4 linked regions of the Homo sapiens genome follow. The protein of the gene in region 2 interacts with the protein of the main gene of each other region in a biochemical or structural test. Each region holds a gene or a part of one and is shown on either strand. Other genes may lie near its edges.

What was found. The genes of interacting proteins can lie anywhere in the genome.
Region 1: the proteins of ERBIN (region 2) and MAP2K2 interact in a test that uses a peptide from one of them, tested with the Homo sapiens proteins (one large-scale study listed by IntAct).
Region 3: the proteins of ERBIN (region 2) and PLCB4 interact in a test that uses a peptide from one of them, tested with the Homo sapiens proteins (one large-scale study listed by IntAct).
Region 4: the proteins of ERBIN (region 2) and CNTNAP2 interact in a test that uses a peptide from one of them, tested with the Homo sapiens proteins (one large-scale study listed by IntAct).

The regions. Positions count from the first base shown.
Region 1 is NC_000019.10:4,103,623-4,107,122, forward strand, and holds part of MAP2K2 (dual specificity mitogen-activated protein kinase kinase 2), read right to left. Parts: intron 1-3,500. UniProt on the Homo sapiens protein: Catalyzes the concomitant phosphorylation of a threonine and a tyrosine residue in a Thr-Glu-Tyr sequence located in MAP kinases. Activates the ERK1 and ERK2 MAP kinases.
Region 2 is NC_000005.10:65,929,575-65,933,074, reverse strand, and holds part of ERBIN (erbin), read right to left. Parts: intron 1-3,500. UniProt on the Homo sapiens protein: Acts as an adapter for the receptor ERBB2, in epithelia. By binding the unphosphorylated 'Tyr-1248' of receptor ERBB2, it may contribute to stabilize this unphosphorylated state.
Region 3 is NC_000020.11:9,380,087-9,383,586, forward strand, and holds part of PLCB4 (1-phosphatidylinositol 4,5-bisphosphate phosphodiesterase beta-4), read left to right. Parts: coding exon 1-76; intron 77-3,500. UniProt on the Homo sapiens protein: Activated phosphatidylinositol-specific phospholipase C enzymes catalyze the production of the second messenger molecules diacylglycerol (DAG) and inositol 1,4,5-trisphosphate (IP3) involved in G-protein coupled receptor signaling pathways.
Region 4 is NC_000007.14:147,127,801-147,131,300, forward strand, and holds part of CNTNAP2 (contactin-associated protein-like 2 precursor), read left to right. Parts: intron 1-892; coding exon 893-1,036; intron 1,037-3,500. UniProt on the Homo sapiens protein: Required for gap junction formation. Required, with CNTNAP1, for radial and longitudinal organization of myelinated axons.

The DNA of each region.
Region 1 (3,500 bases), on a different chromosome or scaffold from region 2:
GGCTTTCATTCACATGGGTGGGAGGAGCCGGGGGAGAAATCCTGGGACTCAGGGGTGCCCGGGTTGCCGCTCTCTGGCCACTTCTGCCCAGCTAGGCTTGGAGAGAAAGGCCGAAGGCAGTTCTAGAAAACCCAACACGCTTTGAGACCTCTAAAGCATACACGTGACTCCATCCACCAGCTCCAGGCTGAAGACGCAGACACACAGGGTGAGAGGGCAGGTATGGCCAGGGCTCAGACAGCCCAGGAGGAGGTGCCAGGACGGGAGCTCCAGTGAGCCAGGGCCAGGTGGAAGCTGCTTCTATTCTCAGTTTTTATCAATCTACCTTAAAAGAATTACTTAAAATGAGGCCGGACATGGGCTGGGAGCGGTGACTCACGCCTGTAATGCCAGGACTTTGGGAGGCTGAGGCAGGCGGATCACTTGAGGTCAGGAGTTTGAGACCAGCCTGGCCAATATGGTAAAACCCCATCTCCACTAAAAATAAAAAAAATTAGCTGGGCGTGGTGGTGGATGCCTGTAATCTCAGCTACTCGGGAGGCTGAGGCAGGAAGATCACTTGAACCTGGGAGGCAGAGGTTGCTGTGAGTCGAGATCGTGCCACTTCTCTCTCGCCTGGGCGAGAGAGCAAGACTCCTCAATTAAAAAAAAAAAAAAAAAAAGCCGCACGTGGTGGCGCACACCTATAATCCTACCACTTTGGGAGGCCAAAGCAAAAAGAATGCTTGAGCTGAGGAGTTTGAGACCATCCCGAGCCACACAGTGAGACCCCATACCAAAATCAGCCGGGCGTGGTGGTGCACGCCTGTAGTCCCAGCTACTCAGAAGGCTGAGGTGGGAGGATCCCTTGAACCTGGGAGGTCAAGGTTGCAGTGAGCCGAGATCACACCACTGCACTCCAGCCTGGGTGACAGAGCAAGACCCTGTCTCAAAAAAACAAAAACCAGAAAGAGACCAACGACTCGAAAGAGGCAGGGTGGCGAAAACCAAACAGACGCACCAAACGCAACCCTAAAACCCCTGCTCCCCAGCACAGCTCCTTCCGTCTTCGTTTCTCCTGGGGCCGCAATCAATGTTTGTTTAGTGAGAAAATTCAAAGAGCCTCTCCCCGGAGATGAGGGCGGGCGGAGCGCTGTGCTGCAGCCTCAGGAGCTGGTGGAAGACGCCTCACAGGAGCATCGCTCTCTCTGCAGCCGCCTTTCTCCACTGTGACATCGGGGCCAGGTCACTCTCTGGGGTGGGGCCGACCTGGGCACTGCAGGGCGCTGAGTAGCGTCCCTGGCCTCCATCCACTCCACGCCAGGAGCATCCCCCAGTTGTGACAACCACACACATCCCCAGACAGTGCCAGGTGTCTCCTGGGAGGGAGAACTGCCCCTGGTTGAGAAGGGCTGATCTCCAGCTATAAAGACCAAAGTCTGGCAGGGTAAGCAATTTGTCTGAGTCACAGAGACAGGATGTGGTGCAGGGGGTATTGCAGCTGTGTACTGCTGACCCCAAATCTCACTCTGTGCATGACCATACACGTCTACCGTGTGTGTGTGTGTGTGTGTGTGTGTGTGTGTGTGTGTGTGTGTGTGTGATGTTTAAAATGGTCTTGTAACTGTAATTTTGTTACGTAGGTAGTAGGTGAACACATTTTTCTTTCTTTTTTTTTTTTTCCTGAGGCGGAGTCTCGCTCTGTTGCCCAGGCGGGGGTGCAGTGGCACCATCTCGGCTCACTGCAAGCTCCGCCTCCCGGGTTCACGCCATTCTCCTGCCTCAGCCTCCTGAGTAGCTGGGACTACAGGTGCCCGCCACCACACTCGGCTAATTTTTTGTATTTTTAGTAGAGATGGGGTTTCACTACTGGTGTTAGCCAGGATGGTCTCGATCTCCTGACCTCGTGATCCGCCCGCCTCGGCCTCCCAAAGTGCTGGGATTACAGGCTTGAGCCACCGCACCCGGCAAACACATTTTTCTTATAAAAAATTCAAATGAGGATAAATAACCTGGACGCCGCATCACTTCCACCATTCCCCCCTCAAGTGTGACTTATATTGTTCCAGATCTTTCTTCATCTCTCTCTTTCTTTCTTTCAGGCAGGGGTCGCCCAGACTGCAGCATAGTGCTGTGATCTTGGCTCACTGCAGCCTCCACCTCCTTGGTTCAGGCAGTCCTCCCACCTCAGCTTCCCAAGTAGCTGGGAGTACAGGCGCGCCACCATGTCCTGCTAATTTTTTGTAGAGACGGGGGTTCCTCATGTTGCCCAGGCTGCTCTCGAAGTCCTGGCTGAAGAGGTCCTCCCACTTCAGCCTCCCAAAGTGCTGGGATCACAGGAGTGAGCACCTGGCCCCCGCATCTTGCTGTGTATTTGGAAACACAGACTCGGGACTCACTCTCTTGCCCAGGCTGTAGAGCAGTGGCTCAATCATAGCTCACTGCAGCCTCGACCTACTGGGCTCATGGGATTCTCCCAAAGCACTGGGATTAAAGCATGCTTGCCCAGCCAGAGTTTAAAACAACATCGAAATGGGCTCATGTCTGTAATCCCAGCACTTTGGGAGGCCGAGGCAGGAGGGTCACTTGTGGCCAGGAGTTCAAGACCAGTCTGGGCAATATGGAGAGACCCTATCTCTACACAAATAAGCAAATAAATTAGCTGTGCATGGTGGCTCACGCCTGTGGTCTCAACTACTCGGGAGGCTGACGTGGGAGGACAGCACCAGTACACTCCAGGCTGGACAACTGAGCAAGACCCTGACTTGAAAATACAATAAACAAATGAATGGGCCAATGCTATGTTTATTTTATTTTTCTTTTATTTTGAAATGGAGTCTTGCTGTCGCCAGGCTGGAGTGCAGTGGCATGATCTCGGCTCACTGCAACCTCCGCCTCCCGGGTGCATGTGATTCTCCTGCCTCAGCCTCCTGAGGAGCTGGGACTACAGGCGTGCGCCACCATGCCCAGCTAATTTTGTATTTTTAGTATAGATGGGGTTTCACCATGTTGGCCAGGATGGTCTTGAACTCTTGACCTCGTGATCCGCCTGCCTTGGCCTCCCAAAGTGCTAGGATTACAAACGTGAGCCACTGCACCCAGCCCATGCTATGTTTATTTTCTACAACCACCCCTCCACTACATGAATAGTGTTGTACTGTGGGGATACTCCCATTCAGTACACCATTGTGGATTTCACTTTGCCACTGCAAAGCAGCCAAATATCATTCTTTAATCACTCCCTTACTGATGGACATGTCCAGTTTCCATTACAGTAGAACAAGACGGGCATTCTTCAGCAGATAGGACGAGACCCCCAGAAAGGCCAAGGGGCACCTCTACGAGGTCCGTAAGCCACTGGCTCTCCTTTCCCCATCCCATGAGGCCCCACTGTCCACTGGGTTCTTGCCCCGAGTTATCCAGTAATAGGTTCAGACCCCAGGGAAGCAGCCAGCCCCACTGTTCCTAAGTTCCAGTCACCAACAAGTGCTTGCCATTTTATATAAATACATCACTGGGCA
Region 2 (3,500 bases):
CATGCCATAATCCCAGCACTTTGGGAGACCAAGGAGGGAGGACTGCTTGAGGCCAGGAGTTCAAGACCAGCCTGAACAACAGAGCAAGAACCCATCTCTACAAAAAAAAATAAAACATTAGCCGGGCATGGTGGTGCATGCCTATAGTCTCGGCTGAAGGTGAGGTGACAGGATAGCTTGAGCCCAGGAGTCCGAGGCTGCAGTGAGCCGTGAGTATGCCACTGCACTCCAGCCTGGGCAACACAGTGAGATCCTGTCTCAAAAAAATAAAAACAAAAATAACTCCTATGAAAAACTAGAATTCTTAGAAACTCTGTTCCAAAAACAAGTAACAAAATAACTGAAAACAAATGAAAATCAAGTAAGTGGGCTTAAAGATCAAGCTTCAACACTCTCCCAGAATCCAATACGAACAGACAAGAAAAAAAATTTAATTAATGAAAGTTCCATAAATCCCAACTTCCACCTAAGTTCTTGAAGTGCAGTCCATAGGCCCTGGAAGTCCACAGTCTCTGGAAGTCCCTGAGACACTTTCAAGGAACCTTCCAGGTCAAAACTGTGTTTATAATATTGAAATGTCATTTTTCCCTTTTCCATTATATTTACATTTTACACTGATGTTGCAAAAGCAATGGTTGCAACAGCTAACACCTTTACAAGAACAAAGGCAATGCCTTCAAGCTGCAATAGTACCACTACATATTCCCAGGTTTATGTCTTTTTTTTTTTTTTTTTTTGAGACGGAGTCTTGCTCTGTCGCCAGGCTGGAATGCAGTGGCGCGATCTCGGCTCACTGCAACCTCCACCTCCCGAGTTCAGGCAATTCTCCTGCCTCAGCCTCCTGAGTAGCTGGGATTACAGGCGTTTGTGACCACACCGAGCTAATTTTTTGTATTTTAGTAGAGACAGGGTTTCACTGTGTTGTCCATGGTCTTGATCTCCTGACCTTGTGACCAGCACTTTGCGCGGTGGCTCACGCCTGTAATCCCAGCACTTTGGGAGGCCGAGGCGGGCAGATCACCTGAGGTCAGGAGTTCAAGACCAGCCTGACCAACGTGGAGAAACCCTGTCTCTACAAAAAATACAAAATTAGCTGGACATGGTGGCGCATGCCTGTAATCCCAGCTACTCAGGAGGCTGAGGCAAGAGAATCGCTTAAACCCGGGAGGCAGAGGCTGCGGTGAGCCGAGACTGCACCACTGCACTCCAGTCTGGGCAACAAGAGCAAACTCCATCTCAAAAAAAAAAAAAAAAAGAAAGAAAAGAAAGAAAATCTTCCTCCCTTTTCCAACCAAATACCTGTATAAGGCTGGATTTTCTTCATATACTTTAGCCAAAAGAACATACTGTAACAGATGGAGTGAAGAAGCAGATATGAGAATCGAGCTGTTTTCTATTAAGCCAAACATAAGAGACTTGCAAAAATATAAAACATTGCCACTATTTTTGCTATTTATTTTAGAAAACAATTATATTTTTATTAAAACAATGTTACACTAACATGCAATAGCTTATTTTCAAATAAATTAATTTTTTTTAATTTCTGTTTTGAGTCAAACCAAAAAGTCTGAGAACAGCTGCCTTAGGACTATTACTATTTCTTGTAATTATACCATATTATAACAGAGTGAATCCTCCTACAGGGAAATGAAATGTACAAGGCACTTAGCCTCAAAGTAAGTTGTCCCAGATTATTTTCTAAGTTATTCAGTCATCTTTCCATTTTTCTATTGCTTCACTGTAACACCACAGGTCATAACTTCACAATGCTGTAAACGTACCTTTCTCACGCCTTCTGGGATACCAAAGAACCAAAAACAGCTCATTATGTACATAAGTAAATGGGCTCTGAATAATAATGGCCCTAAAAGTGAAGTCCCCAGACTCTGTCATACCTGTTGTGATTAAGGAGATGTCATTTTTTATTTTCTAGTTTTTCTACTACATTCAATATGCTTTTAAAGCTATAATAAATAACCTCCAGATAAGTAGAGTCTTATTAAGTGAATTTTTAGATATTCTCCTTTTCTATCGTCTTCCACAAAGTGAATTTTTAGATATTCTCCTTTTCTATCGTCTTCCACACTATCACTTAAAGCCTGGCAAGACCTTCATTCAATGGTGTCTGGAACAAAATTTGAAGTGACAAAAATAGAGTGATAGAGTACTATTGTGCTTATTTCATGAAATCAAAGAAAGATAATTTCAAAATTTTAGGGATTCTGTGTCAGAGAAGACATCTAACTTGAAAGGTAGGACAGAAGAGGAAGGTACAGAGAAGAAGGAACAGAGAAATATATCTGTATGTTTTAAGAGGCCAAAAGTATAATAAAACAAGAAGGTAGAGAGGGTTACAAAGTCTTAATACATAAGAATAAATAACAACCTGGTATTATCTTAACAGTCAATTTTAAGAACACTAAAGAGAAAAAGGAAAACTGAGAAAACAAAGTATAAAACAAACAATGGCCGGGAGCGGTGGCTCATGCCTGTAATCCCAGCACTTTGAGAGGCCGAGGTGGGCAGATCACGAGGTCAGGAGATAAAGACCATCCTGGCTAACACGGTGAAACCGCGTCTCTACTAAAAATACAAAAAAATTAGCCGGGCACAGTGGCGGGCGCCTCTAGTCCCAGCTACTCGGGAGGCTGAGGCAGGAGAATGGCGTGAACCTGGGGGAGGCGCAGCTTGCAGTGGGCCAAAATCTTGCCACTGCACTCCAGCCTGGGCGACAGAGCAAGACTCCATCTCAAAATAAACAAAGCAATATACTGATGAATATAAAGTTAAAATACCAGCATGTACACTTAGTTGAAATGCAAAGGGGATATTCAGAATTAAATGGGCTAATAAAATAAGATCAGATAAACTTTTTCCACTGCATGTTTTGAACAGTTTTTTGAGGTGATAAACATAGACTAACAGTTTGGAAAAGAGGGAAATGGCAAAATATAATTAAGAACGACCAACTGAACACAGAGAAAATAAGGCTAGGTAAATGAAGCTAACTATAAATATAGGAAGCTAAGGGAATCAGAAGAGAAAGCTGAATAGCAGCTAAGTTTCTTTTTTACAATTAGGAAACCTAAGAAGAGACAGCTAAAAAGTGAATCTGAAAAATGGGAGTTAGCAGTAGGCCGGGCTCAGTGGCTCACACCTGTAATCCCAGCACTTCGGTAGGCCAAGGTGGGCAGATCACCTGAGGTCGGGAGTTCGAGACCAGCCTGGCCAACATGGCAAAACCTGTCTCTACTAAAAATACAAAAATTAGCTAGGCATGATGATGTGCGCTTGTAATCCCAGCTACTTGGGAGGCTGAAGCAGGAGAATCGCTGGAACCCGGGAGGTGGAGGTTGTGGTGAGTCGAGATTGTGCCACTGCACTCCAGCCTAGGCAACAGAGCAAGACTCCATCTCGAAAAAAAAAAAAAAAAAAAAGAGGAAAAGACAAAGACATCTTTAGAGGTTTATAATAGAGATGTATTCCCAGAAAAAGAAAAC
Region 3 (3,500 bases), on a different chromosome or scaffold from region 2:
TTTCCATTTTATGATGCCAAAAGGGCAATGCAGATCATTGAGATGTATGAACCTGATGAAGATTTGAAGAAAAAAGGTAATAAACATGAAAAAAGGACTTAAAAAAAAAAACAAGAAAAGATGCAACTTTTAAAGCCTTGGTTTATTTAAAGGTATCTGTAAATGCTTTGCAACTCCCTGAGCCATGGATTGATGACTATTTTTTTTTCCTGCTCTTAAGTTCGTATAAATTTTACCTTTCATCAGAATTAGTCAATCCTGACTGAAGTATACTGTTACATTTATTGTATTATTAAATACATTATAGTGATGTTTCCCCATGTACTTTCTTGTATTAGATTTTAGTATTGCATATTGCTTGAAATATTAAAACAACCAATACAGTCTCTACTTGCAATCCTTGAAAATAATTTTTGTCATATAAAAACTTATACCTTTTCTTTTTCTCCCTTTTGTTTTGCCAAGCCAAATAAATTTAATACGTGATTTGATGTGCAGTAACCCTCATTTGACCTCTGGTATGAAAGATAAATACAATTGATATGAAATTAAATAGTCAGGAATCGCCTTAGCTAATTGCTGGACCTTTGTCCCTTTCAAAGAAGCTTTGGAAACAAAGGGTTGTTCGCACAAATATTTGTCAAAGGAAAGGCATGGGGAGAAATTTTAAAATCAGTCCCACAGCAGTGAGAAATGCCTGCGGAACATGGGAGGGAGAGCTGGGGGTACCTGAGCTAGAGCCTTTGGCGTTATGTCTCAGTGGAGAATGTAAAGAGATGAAAGTTCAAGTTCCATAGGTCCCGTATGTCCGTGAATCTCAAGGTCTCAGTTTCCTCCTTTTTAAAATCTATTTTTTTCTTTGTATCTAATGCCAGTGAGTGTGGTTGAATGGTCTGTATGTTATCTGGACCCTCTTTTTAGGTATACCTGGCCCTCTACACTCCATGATTTCACCCCTGATATTTTTCCAAGCCCAATAGTTTTCCCTTTAGTTGTAGTTGTACAGTTTACACTTTCTGCTATGGCTGAAGATACCTATTTTAAGCAAGAATGCTTCATTCCTTCCCTCTCTGTCAATATTCTGAATATCATAATTTATTTCACATTGCTTATGATTACAGCAAAGGGAGGTACAGCTTGGTAGAAAATCTAACACTTCGCATTGGCAGGAGGTGATATGATTCTTGTCACTTCCCTGTGACCTTGAGCTAGGAACTGGCCTCCTGGGCCTCAGTTTCCCTGCTTGTAAGGTGGTGGGGCTCATGCAGTAATTTGGCTAGTATTTCCCTTCCCTACCTTCATTCTTTGAAGTTTGTAGAGGGCTGACCGGGTGCCAAGCACTGTGCCAGATGCTAGGAATTCAAAACAATAAGAAATGTCCCCAGCCTTGAAGGCAGTTGCGATCTGTTCAAGGAGAAAGACAAGTGATTCAACAATTCCTTGGCAGTGTGATAAATGTCATGATTGAGGTGTGTCCTTGTTTATTTCCAAATTCCTTCTAAGTTTTAAAGGTCTATGAAGTGACCATTGACACATCTAAAAAGGGTAGCTTGACCATTTCACAAGTGATGGAAATTTTAACGTCTGTCATTTTCAAGTGTGGGTGAGAATGGAGTACAAAGCCATTCTTATAAACTTCTGGTAAGACCCTACATTGGTACAACCATCTTGGGGAATATTTTGGCAATAGTTTATAAAGTGAAAAATATGCCTCTTATACAGCCCAGCATTTTCACTTCTAGGTATGTACCCTAGAGAATCTCTCATCTATTTCCCAAACTCTGGATACCAGAGCGGCACAGTTCTCAGATCTCTGCTCCACCTATATTCACTCTGTACCTGAGCTCATCCAAGCCAATGGCTTTACATTTCTTCTATTAAACTCTCCAGTCCTAACCTCCAGCTTACACTACAGACTTGTAGTAGAACTCTCCATCTGGATGTTGAATGGGCATTTCCAATGTATATATACAACATATTTCGATCCTTCCTACCCCTAGATATGTTCCTTTCAAAGCCTATAAAATAGTACCGTTATTTACCCAGTCAAAACCACTGGGCTCATGTTGGACTTGTTTCATTCTTTCACATCATGTCTGGTTCATTTGCAAAACCTGTAAGATCCAGCCTCAAAAGAAATCCTAAATAAATCACTTCTCACCATCTCCAACATTACTGACTATCCAAACCTTCATCATCCCTCTCCAGGCAATGCCTTCTCCTTCCTACTCAGTGCCCTACAATTTATGGTCCACACAGCAGCCAGAGTAAACCTTTTAAAACCAAATCTAATCATGTTATTCCACCCTTTGAAACCCTCCAAAGGCTTCCCAACACATTTAGAATAAAATCTAAAATACTTAGTGAGGACTAAAGCCCAAGTGATGTAGCCTTTGGCTCCATCTCCAATCTCACTTCAAGCTACCTTTTTCCTTGGTCACTTGCTCTGTCTTGCTGTCATTGAATGATGTTGGCACGCATACATCTGCATCAAGGTCTTTGCACTTGATGATCCTTCTGCCTGGACTGGTGTTTCCTGGGTGTGCACGTGGCTTGCTCCTCACACATGTACGTGACCTCAGAAGGGCTTTCACTGGCCCATATTTAACACAGCATCCTGCCATGCTTCATCACCTTCCTCCCTGCTTTCTCTGTCCTTCTAGTACCTCTTTGACATTATATTTATTTGTTTACTTATTTGTTTCTGTCACTCATAATATGAGAGTTTCATGAAGGCAGGGCTTACCTGTTTCTTCTATCACTGCATCTATCCTGGTGCCTCTAAAAGTACTTGCTCTTTAGAATGAATGAAGGTGCCCAAGGAAAGAGGTATACAAATTTCTACTTTCATTTATAATTAGAAATGACCTAACTATCCATCAACCAAATAATGGATAATAAATTATGATATATTCATATATGGACTTCTGTACCTTCAGTGAAAAATAAATGAACAAGATCTACCTACATAGCTGGTATATAAAGATAAAAATAGCAAGTTGCAAATGCACACAGTGGGATAGTTTTTACATAAAATTAAAAACAGCCCAAACTACCCGTTGTTTGGATAAATGCATATGTAGTAAGGTTGCAGAACCATTTTGGAGGTAAACACCAAAACTAGGATACTAGTTATCTATCTGGTATGGAATGGAATTGAGGTGGGGTATACAGGATGCTGCAGTGGCATCAGAAATTATGTATTCTTTTACATGTAAGTCAAATAATCAAAAATGTAAATCAAATAAGGCAAAATGTTGAGATCTGACCACACTGGTGTAGGCCCGTGGCTATTCATTATGCTATCATCTGAACACTTCTGTATTAGCTTGAAATCAGTTCATAACTTGCAAGTTCTTAAATAAAACAAAAACTTGAAGCTGTCGATGCATCAACCATTTATAAGTTGCATAAATACTGATTGTTGCTCCTGTAGTTACCACGTGGGCTCTACCCCATGTCAGAAAGGTGTGATCGAAATGAAGGGTGGCTTTTGGGGC
Region 4 (3,500 bases), on a different chromosome or scaffold from region 2:
TATTGTATGATAATTTAAAAGATATATATTACAAGTATTGTATATCTTGATATTATAATTAGCGGTTGGCTTCATTTACTACTAATTCACTATTCATAGTAAATATCATCCTTGACCATGCAAATACTAAATGCAATTTTGTATCATATAAATTTAATGCTATAGTGTATATTGATCAAAAATGTATAAGAAATGGATATTTTCTTTCTATAAGCGATAGCAGCCAGAGAAACACAGTAAGTAGCATTGTCTTATTTCTTAAGATTTAAAAGACCTATAATATCTTTAAGCCTACACAGCTCAACTTTGAGTTCCCAAATCCTAAGTGGTCCCTAATCAATATTGTAATGATATTTTTTGAACTATTTTCTACATCCAAAATAAATCTAATGAATTTTTGACAATAATGGTCATTAGACTACAAGTCTGCATAGGGTAAATACGATATCCCTTGCTTTGGGCTGCAGTTTTATCAGCTTATTAAATTAGTGCTGATTATCTCATGCTTACTGGAGGCATTTATTGATAGTATGTCTTTGAATGATAAACATAAAAATATATTTCTAATATTATTTGATACAAGAAGTTTGCTGAATAAAAATCTTTTAAAATATTCTCAAGAAAATTTATAAAATGCCTTTGGGGCAGTAAAATTGCAAAGGATCATTGCTTTTTTTTGTTCAAGTTATAATCTAATTATCAGAATGAATGACTCCATTAGACACTTCAACAACAACATAATTTAATATGCCATAGATTTTGGAGGCAGAATGCTATAATATTTGTATATTTTGGTTGAGGTATAGATACTTGACCTTCACTGTATTCATAGTTTTGTCTAGTTCATCATAATACAATGTGGACGTTTACATTTAATTTCTTTTTCTCAAAGATAACCTTTGGAGGCATCCCTTTCTCTGGCAAGCCCAGCTCCAGCAGTAGAAAGAATTTCAAAGGCTGCATGGAAAGCATCAACTACAATGGCGTCAACATTACTGATCTTGCCAGAAGGAAGAAATTAGAGCCCTCAAATGTGGTAAGGATTTTCACCCGCAAAATATTGGTCTATAAAATATCAAGTAACATTTTTGTTTTTTGGATTATTGAACAACAACAAAATCATGACATTTTTCATCATATTTGTGTTTGGGCAAAATGATGTAAAACAAACATTAGAGTTATCAGAATTAGTATAGATACTTGCTATTCTTTGAGAATAGCTAATGGGACTAGCTTGAAGTAGGTGGTTGGTTTTATTCCCACGGAGCACAGAATGTTAGACTCAATATTTCTGGATGACTCGTGGCACGTGCTTCATCCCAGCAGTTAGCAGCCCTTAAACCGGCAGCATCGTGTTTTCAAATATCTCATCACATGTGCTCTAAGTTACTTGCTTATGGTTTAATTTAATATTTTTAAAGTTTTTAAATCAGGGACTTTATTATATTTACTCCTGTGCTTCCAAAGATGATTTGTTTGAATATGTAAATAAATACACTTTTTAGCAAATCTCTAACCAGACTAAATATTACACAGTTAAATAAAGCTTGATTTCCACTGCATAGCCAAAGCTGTGCCACAGAAGTTCACAGTGATTTTTTTCTGCCTTTTGTGTGAGTTGGTGCCAGGTTTCATTAGATTTTGGAAGGAGAGCAAAAGTCAAAGAAAGCCCCAGCACACATGCTTCCAAACGACACTACTCCACATCCCTAAAAGACACTTAGTTTGCAATTTTAGTATGAGAGTTCCCTATGGCTCTGCAAGACCAGGAGCTGCTTTAGCCCAGAGAGGCTATTTGGGAGAGCTTAGAATTCCAGAGACCCATACAATAAGAAGATATTATGCACTATAAGTACAATAATGTCATGAGTGTTTGCACTGTGCTCCAAAAGAGCTCTGATGGTCTCGTTGCCTCAAATTTGAGCCCAGGGTTTCATAAAATGATTTGACAAATGGAAATCCCTGAATGAATAAACAGTTCAGGTTGAATATGGAAGGTTTAAAACAATAACTTCATGCAAATGATTATTTAATAAATAATTTTCTTAAAGTAATCATAAATTTATACTAGAAATTAAAACTTGAACTTTGGTTAAATTTTCTCATAAAGTATATTGACTATGGAAAAATAATAATAGCTCCATTTATAGGCAACAGGTATTGTGCTAGGCAAGTCGTATTTTATATTTAGGATGATCTGAGAACAATACTGCAAGAAGGATACAAACATTTTGTAGATGAAAACATTGCGATTTAACATGGAAAAAATAAGTTATTTTATGAGAAAAATAACTTTTATTTTATGAGTAGGAGATAAAAAGATAGATGTATAGCCTGGTATAGTGGGTTGCTGCTGTAATCCCAACACTGTGGGAGGCCAAGGCAGGAGGATCACTTGAGTCCAGGAGTTTGAGACCAGCCTGGGCAACATAGTGAGACCATGTCTCTACAACAAGTTAAGAAAATTAAAATTAAAAAAATAAATCAAATTGAATTAAAAAATTAGCTGGGCATAATGGTGCATGCATGTAGTCCTAGCTGCTTGAGAGGCTGAGGTAGGAGGATCACTTGAGCCCACAAGTTTGAGGCTGCAGTGAGCCATGATTGAACTACTGCATTCCAGCCTGGGCAACAGACTGAGACTCTGTCCCCCCAAAAATAAAAGAATAAAAAAAGATTATGGATTCACAATATGTGAGTTTGATTATGCTCTATAATTACATTTTATTTTAACAAATAATTGCAGTGAGAAAACATAGAATAAACTTTTGAATCAAAATATACATACATACAGAAAATCTTAGATGGGATAGAGACAAATAGGACATTTTGCAAGCAACCCTGCAAAGACAAGTGTTTATATAAGAAATGTACTTTCAAAGATGTTGGGTGCTGGTATTTCAGTGAAATTGACTGAGCACTCATTCTACCTCCTCTTCCCCCACATACTCATTCCCTCATTATGCATTGACTCCAAAGTCAGCACCGTTACTCTGGAAGGATCTTTAATTTTGCTAGGGAGACAATCCCCTCAAAAGAGGTATGTGGTCAGTTATAAAATCTCAATTATTATGCATAGGCAGTTCTTTTTATCAGTAAAAGCGAGCATTTAAAAATAATCATCTGTGATGGTACAGAGCAAATTTAATTTGAATATTAATTCAGAGAGACTGCCTGCCTTAGATTTAATGGTTATTGTGCTAAAATGGAAGAAATCAGCATCAGGTATATATATATATACACATATATATATGTGTATATATATGTGTGTATATATATGTATATATGTGTATATATACACACACATATATATACCATATACATATATATACCATATACATATACATGTACCATATACATATATATGTACCATATACATATACATATACCATACACATGTATACCATATACATATACATATACCATACACATGTATACCATATACATATACCATATACATATATATGGTGTTGTTAAAAATATATAGAGAAAAAGAGAGA